Homo sapiens: one gene and its partner. The protein of the gene in region 1 purifies or fractionates together with the protein of each later gene. This does not show direct contact. Each region holds a gene or a part of one and is shown on either strand. Other genes may lie near its edges. The genes, in order: RAPH1 and ENAH.

Region 1 (3,826 bases):
CTCTCTCATATATCTATCTATCTATCTATATATATATATATATATATATAGCTTTGCACAATCAGGGAGCAAGGCACATAATGAAATGAGCATACATTTATGCAGAAGAAAATAATAGCAACAAAGCTGCGAGAAAAATTGTAACTTCATCTTCACTGAGCTGTGCATAATCCTTTGAATAATAATGTCCTCTACCTGGTACATTATAATGAAGTTCCTTGTCTTCTTCATGCTTTAAAAAAGTATACTTCTACATTGTATCTACCTATGGCAAAGCTCCCACAGCCTACAAGTTGGTGTGAGCCTTGACTCTTGTTTTTTAAAGAACTGAGGGAGGGAGCAATCCCAGTTAAATATAATGTGCAATTCCCCTTTAACAGTAAACAATGTTTTTAAAACACTTAGCACAAGCTAATTTTATCTTAAATGTACATCTCTGTAAGAGTTCACTAGTGGCTGATAGTAAAATGAAGCAAAATTGTTTGAAACATTCCAGTTAATGCTTATTTTCTAGAAGGGGTTATTTTACAAGTAGCAAAAAAAAAAAAAAAAGTAGGAGGTGGGGAAATAATATGAAAAACGGCAGTTTTTGGTATTAGGTTACAATAAATTTAACGAATGGACAGTTTGCAAAATATAAGGGTTTCTCCCCCTTTAGTGCTGCAGACAAGTTTTACTGCCTAAGACGTTGAGGCTGCAACAATCATGAGCTTGGTATTAGTAGCCATCCATGATAAACATAATTAATTCTCAACTTAACCATCTATAAAATATGTAGTGTTCACCATCACCCTGACTCAATTCACTTCTCTAAATGTCTTTGGTAGAAAGCAGCCAGACCCCACGTGGGTAGTGATGTCTCTTGTGAGACACTTTTCATTTCTGCCAAAACTAGAAATACCACCTTCCTTTACTTTCATTAGCACCTCAAAGTTTGCTTGCTGGATTTCTTTAAAAATATTCTGCCAAAAGAGTTGAAGGCACTGGGGGTTTACAGCAAGTATTTTCTCTTTAAAACGGTTTATTACTTCAACAAGCAAAGAGCAAACCAACTGGAGAAATGTATGTTTTTTCTTTTTATTTATCAAGTTTTATTCTACAGCTAAATTTCAGATTTCTTTTACATATAGACCTTGCAAGGGCACGGTAAGAACTGAGCACTTGTTTTATTTGAGGGATAAAGGTGTAGAAATTTTCTCTTTGAATTTTATAAGGAAAGGCTGGGTACAGTGGCTCATGCCTGTAATCTCAGCATTTTGGGAGGCTGAGGCAGGAAGATCACTTGTGGCCAGGAGTTTGAGACCAGCCTGGGCAACACAGTGAGACCCCCATCTCTACCAAAAAAAAAAAAAAACCTTAAAAGATAATAAGTATCTAATTCTTTTATACTTGCATTTCTCTTTGGATCAAATCTCAACTTTGTGAGAGGTCATACATTTCTACAGGGTTAGGAGTACCCTGCATAATTTATACAAATGTAAAGTGTATATTAAAAAAAAAAAAGTGAAAGTTACCTGCAATCTAAAGGGTTTTCTTCCCCTAGAAACAGTCACCCTCTCGTCAAGTGTATGACCCAATTATACCTATTTTATGAAAAGCAAGGCATCACATTGATAACCATACAGGATCCTATGGGTTTAACTGGTCTAAACTTGAGTGGATTAAATCAGTTGTAATTAGTTAGCTCTGTAGGTATATGAAAAACTTTTGGTAATGTACAAAAATAGGAATGGGTTTTTTACCTGTTTAAAGTCACTTTGTGTTTATAACAAAATTACTTTTAGCTGAGGAACAAAGGTGACAAAGATTTCTGTTGGTGGCTGAGAGTCAAAGCAGGCCAATCCACACCATTACCTGAAATATTTTTCAGGCTAATTTATAACTTTATGGATTTCCTCGATACAAGTTTATTAGTTTATTCTCCATATACAAGTTTATTCTCCCAGAATAGCAGCAAATAAAACTTGAATTGGATGTACAGCTCCTAATAACCTTGATGTCAGAGTTGTCACTTGGTTGGAATTATTATGATCCCCCAATTTAAATTTTCTTGATAAACTCAGCGTTGTTTGTTTTCAGTGACAAGAAAACATACATGGAAAGGGGACCCAAGACAGTTCACCAAGATAGTTCACAGCCCTTTGCAGGATATGCCTTTGGTGGGTGGGAGCACCTAGATTTTAGAGGACTATAAAACGCCATGTTTACTTTGTTTGAAATTTTCTGATGAAAAGTCTTTTGTAACTTAACATTCCACATTTTCATTTAAAAAGTCCCAGAAATATAAACTATCCAATTTACAACTAAGGTGGGTATCTGTAAAAACCTTAAGAATAGTTACTCTTCCCAAGAGAATTACAGCGTCTAAGGGGGGGAAAGAAAGCATCTGAGCAGTAAAAGTCAAGCTGGTAAAATCCAATACAGAATATCTAATAAACCATAAGTTATTTTACTGAGAATAGATTCTGCTGCCCTACAGCATTGGTGCCAAAACTCTAAGCATAGAGTGATTCTACTTTGAAATTATCCATAGTAGAAATTAGGAGTGTCACTAATTAAGCAAGTCACTACCTCTAATAAGCACCTGTTTGCACTGCCCTCAGCAGCAGGATGAGTTAATCCATGCTGTTCACTTTTCAGTACAGCCAAGTCAACTGCACAGACTTGAAGCAGCCAAGCTGGGTGAGAGCTGCAGAGCAGAGGGCAGTGAAAGAAGGCACAGTACTAGTGTCGTGCGGCAGTAGATGCTTTCCATGAATACACCAGAGAAAAAGAGCTACAGAAATACAGTCTAGGAAAAGCTACATCCCAACAAAAATCCAAATTAAAGAAAACCCACTAGGGAGTAAAACAGAAGTATAAAGTATCACTTTAGTGGTTTTTTAAATTCAGTTCATACATGAGGTTAAAACATTTTTAATAGCCATTTCTGTCTGTGGAGGAATGTAAAGGGAAATGGCCTGTTGTCGGACAAGCCACTGGACTGGGGTTAAAATGAGTCTCCTCCTCTAGCCTTACTCTCTTCCTGGCATCATTAGTGTTCAAAAGGATGTCTGCTATTCCAGGAAAACAGACCAGAAGCATCTGTTCAGGATGGCTATCATCAGGATTGATACAAGCAAGAAATTCCAAGAAATCCTGCACTGAAAACATAAAGGCTGTTGTTTTAGGGCTCAAATCATGGGTGAAAAAAGGTTAGCGGGTACATTTTTTCCCCCTCAAGAAAAACTGAAGTGTTGTCTACCTTCTCATGAGAAAATCACCACCACAATAAAACTCAAAACCTCAGGGATGAATACTTTGATAACTGGATTCATATTCTTACTAACTCTAACCCACAAATATGGGTGCCCCTCAAACTATAAAACTGCAGGCAGAAGACTATGAGAAATTCATTCATGAATCACAGTAGCGCTTGGCAATCTACTCAAACATTACCCAAATTTCTGTGCATGCTTAAATTAACAATGCAGATGTGTTAAAGATCACTTCATAAATATCAAACACAAAACTTGGTGAACAATTTGAAAGACCTAAAAATTAATGGTATATATTCTTATTGCTCCATAACCACATGAACATAACCGAACAATATTCTGGAGATGTAGCAATGGAGAGGTGCTGTTCACTCTCTGTTTACGATGCGGTTTTCGTGGAGTGTGGGTTATGCAAGACCTTGAGTATACTGTACTAATTAAGCACTTTTGCTCATTCTAGAATTATTTACCATCTCTTCCCCCACTTTACTGGCATCACTTTTTCCTTGTGGGACAATGTCAACTGATTTCTGCAGTTTGCATTGGTAATCATTAACAATAGGCACAGA
Region 2 (3,826 bases), on another chromosome or scaffold:
CTTCCCTCGCATCACTCTCACACTGTGGATCTCAAGCTTCTCCTCCTCCAAGCACCCCTATTGCCTCAACTCCCTCATCCAAGCCTAGTGTTCTCCCTTCTCCCTCTGCAGCTGCCCCTGCCTCTGTTGAGACTCCTCTAAACTCTGTGCTGGGAGACTCTTCTGCTTCTGAGCCAGGCTTGCAGGCAGCCTCTCAGCCGGCCGAGACTCCATCCCAACAGGGTAAGGCTTTCATTATTGCTACTAACAGCTAATCACTTGAAAATGTTATATAGCAGTGACTTTAATTGCCTGAATGGATGGGTAGGATGGTTTTGATCCTTGAACATTTATATGCCATAATGCCATGCTTTTTTTTTTTTTAATTAAAAAAATTAAAGTAGAAAAATGTTTTTCCTGTTGGATTAATTGCATTTGGAGGAATTTCCTTATTGAACTAGGTTTTGATATCTTTTATAGTATCGCAGTTAAAGATGTTTTCTAGTATTTAAGAGCCCCTCATAATACATTTCTTTATTTTTTTCTTTTTTTTTTTTGTTTTTTTGAGACAGAGTCTTGCTGTGTTGCCCAGGCTGGAGTAGAGTGGCACGATCTCAGCTCACTGCAACCTCCACCTCCCGGGTTCCAGCAATTCTCCTGCCTTAGCCAGCTGAGTAGCAGGAGTTACAGGCACATGCCACCACGCCTGGCTAATTTTTGTATTTTTAGTAGAGACAGGGTTTTGTCATGTTGGCCAGGCTGGTCTTGAACTCCTGACCTCATGTGATCTGCCCCTTCGGCCTCCCAAAGTTGCTAGGATTACAAGTGTGAGCACCGCACCCAGCTAATACATGTCTTTCACTGGGAAAACTTTGCTTGACACGTTGATCTACCACACAATAAATACATGATCTAAATTGTTTTCCTTCATTTTTCTGGGAGACTTAGAGAGATATATTTAGTGCCCAACTGTAGTCATTAGATACGTCATCCCAGAGTTTCCTTTGGAACAGTTCTGATCTTGGGCCCTGTTTCCTTCTTGCCTTTCCTATATTAGATGCCCCATGTTGGACTTCCAGGATAGGTGTCACCCTAACCCTTGGAGCATTATGACTTTGCAGGAGGAGTAGAGAGGATGGCAGGGTTCATATATGCCCTAAAGGGTTCCAAGGTCCAAAATTACAATAAGTAGTGGCTTGAAGGGGTAATCAAGAGAGAATAGCATCCTCTGTAGTTATTCTCCCCGTCCCTACCTTATTGTTATGGTAACAGGGAAGGCAGGATGTAATCTCTAAGTGGATTATTTGTAAGTAGAAAAGGACCTGGTTCTGTAAGTAAATAAGAAGATGCTTGGCAACCCTAGTTTTTAAAATATGATTTAAGGAGGACTACAGAAAGAAAACTGAAAACAAATTTGTACTTAAACATTGCAAGGCTTGTTATTGCTGTATATGTATATATTTTGTTGTTGTTGACTTACAAATTTGCTTAAAAGGTTAGTCAGAATTCTAAGACGTTCAGTTTGGTTTCACCATGACAGTTATACTGTACAAAATGGGCACAGTCAGCCTGACAAAGTGACCTGCTGTACCCTCAGAACTCTTAACAACCCCTACAGAAGGGACAGACTATTTCTAGATGCTTCTTTTAACAATTGATGTTTTCTGCTTGTGTAACTGCTCAAGCTGAAAAAGTTAGCAATTACCACCCAGTGTGCAAAATAGCATTTTATTCGTTCTGAAAACACCCCTCTTAAACCTTAACTAAAAGAGCACCTACTGTTTCAGGATTCTGTTATTAAATAAATTCTTGTTCACTCCCTTTGTGATTTTATAACATTTGAACATTTCTCTTCTTGCCCCCCATTTTGTGGGATAAAAACAACTCTACTTCAAATCCTATGGTATTTAATTATTTCCGAGCGTTATTTTGAGGTTTTACTTTGTACTAGTAAATTCCTTTACTTCAGTGATTCTCAGCCTTGGCTATCCATTGAATTTAAATGTGAAGTATTTTTTAAAATGCTGAAGCTGGGACTTACTCCTCCTTCATGTTTTTAATACAGCCACTTTGACTGTAAACAATTAAATGTATGTGTTCACTGTTACTGAATTTACTGTCTCAACACTTAAGGTTAATGTGGATTATTTTGGGTCTGATATTTCAAGTAGTACTAACTGCCATCCTATATACTAGTTTGTTTTTTCAGGGACGCTTACCTCTCTTCCAAATTTTATAAGTATTTATTTTGCTTATTTACCAAATCCCCATGAAAAAAAAAAGTCTTAATTAGATGATCTGTTGCATAGTTCTATTACTAAAGCTCTAACCTAAAGTAAGTAGTTATATATACTTGGACCTTACATTTCAGTATCTTTCAAAAACTGATCTAGACTTTTACAACTATGATAAATTGGACTCATTAAGTAAATACATGAGTCAGTTTAATTTAGCATGGCATTCTGCGTACCTTCCCACATAAAATAATATCACTCAGCTCTATTGTTGATGGTCTTACTTAACATTTCTCTCTCTCAGGCATTGTCTTGGGACCACTTGCACCTCCACCTCCTCCACCACTCCCACCAGGGCCTGCACAGGCTTCAGTAGCCCTCCCTCCTCCCCCAGGGCCCCCTCCACCTCCTCCACTCCCATCCACCGGGCCTCCACCGCCCCCTCCTCCCCCTCCTCTCCCTAATCAAGTACCCCCTCCTCCTCCACCACCTCCTGCCCCACCCCTCCCTGCATCTGGATTCTTTTTGGCATCCATGTCAGAAGACAATCGCCCTTTAACTGGACTTGCAGCTGCAATTGCCGGAGCAAAACTTAGGAAAGTGTCACGGGTAAATACCTTTCTGAAAAATTTTTTTAATATGTCTTATTCTTCCTAAATATCTAAAATGTTGAATTTATTGTATTCTAATTTTATGAAATGTTATGAACTTCATTGATTTAAAAAATTGAAATAATTTACCCTGGCGCAATGGCTCATACCTGTATAATCCCTGCACTTTGGGAGGCTGGGGTGGGCGGATCACCTGAGGTCAGGAGTTCGAGACCAGGCTGGCCAACATGTTAAAACCCTATCTCACTAAAAATACAAAACTTAGCCAGATGTGTGACACATGCCTATAATCCCAGCTGCTCGGGAGGCTGAGGCAGAAGAATCGCTTGAACCCGGGAGGTGGAGGTTGCAGTGAGCCGAGATCATGCCACTGCGCTCTAGCCTGGGTGACAGAGTAAGACTTTGTCTCAAAAAATAAAATAAATAAAAATTAAAAATTGACATAATTTAAATTTTTATAGTGAAGTTGTAAGAATAGTATAAATAATTTCTATAAATTCATCACCTACATTCACCCATTAACATTTTACCAGTATTTGCTTTTTTATTCCTTCTTTGGATATGTTTCCTTCTTTACACATGCACTTTTTTTGTTTTTTCTCTTGAGACGGAGTTTCACTCTTGTTATCCAGACTGGAGTGCCATGGCGCGATCTCAGCTCACTGCAACCTCCACCTCCCAGGTTCAAGCGATTTTGCCTCAGCCTCCTGAGTAGCTGGGATTACAGGCACCCACCACCATGCTTAGCTAATTTTTGTATTTTTAGTAGAGATAGGGTTTCGCGATGTTGACCAGACTGGTCTTGAAATCCTGACCTCAGGTGATCCACCCGCCTCAGCCTCCCACAGTGCCGGGATTACAGGTGTGAGCCATCGCACCCGGCCTACACATGCACTTTTGTTTGAATGATTTGAGAGTAACTCAGAGACACAAGCTTCTATTTTCCTAAGTACCTCAGTGTGAATTTTATAAGAACAAGGACATTTACCTGCATAACCAGTA

Evidence for each region.
Region 2: the proteins of RAPH1 (region 1) and ENAH purify together in Homo sapiens (affinity purification with western blotting, with the first as the bait; one study listed by BioGRID). This does not show direct contact.

What each region holds. Positions count from the first base shown.
Region 1 is NC_000002.12:203,434,031-203,437,856, forward strand, and holds part of RAPH1 (ras-associated and pleckstrin homology domains-containing protein 1), read right to left. Parts: 3' UTR 1-3,826. UniProt on the Homo sapiens protein: Mediator of localized membrane signals. Implicated in the regulation of lamellipodial dynamics. Negatively regulates cell adhesion.
Region 2 is NC_000001.11:225,513,592-225,517,417, reverse strand, and holds part of ENAH (protein enabled homolog), read left to right. Parts: coding exon of another isoform or gene 1-111; coding exon 112-222; intron 223-2,517; coding exon 2,518-2,822; intron 2,823-3,826. UniProt on the Homo sapiens protein: Ena/VASP proteins are actin-associated proteins involved in a range of processes dependent on cytoskeleton remodeling and cell polarity such as axon guidance and lamellipodial and filopodial dynamics in migrating cells.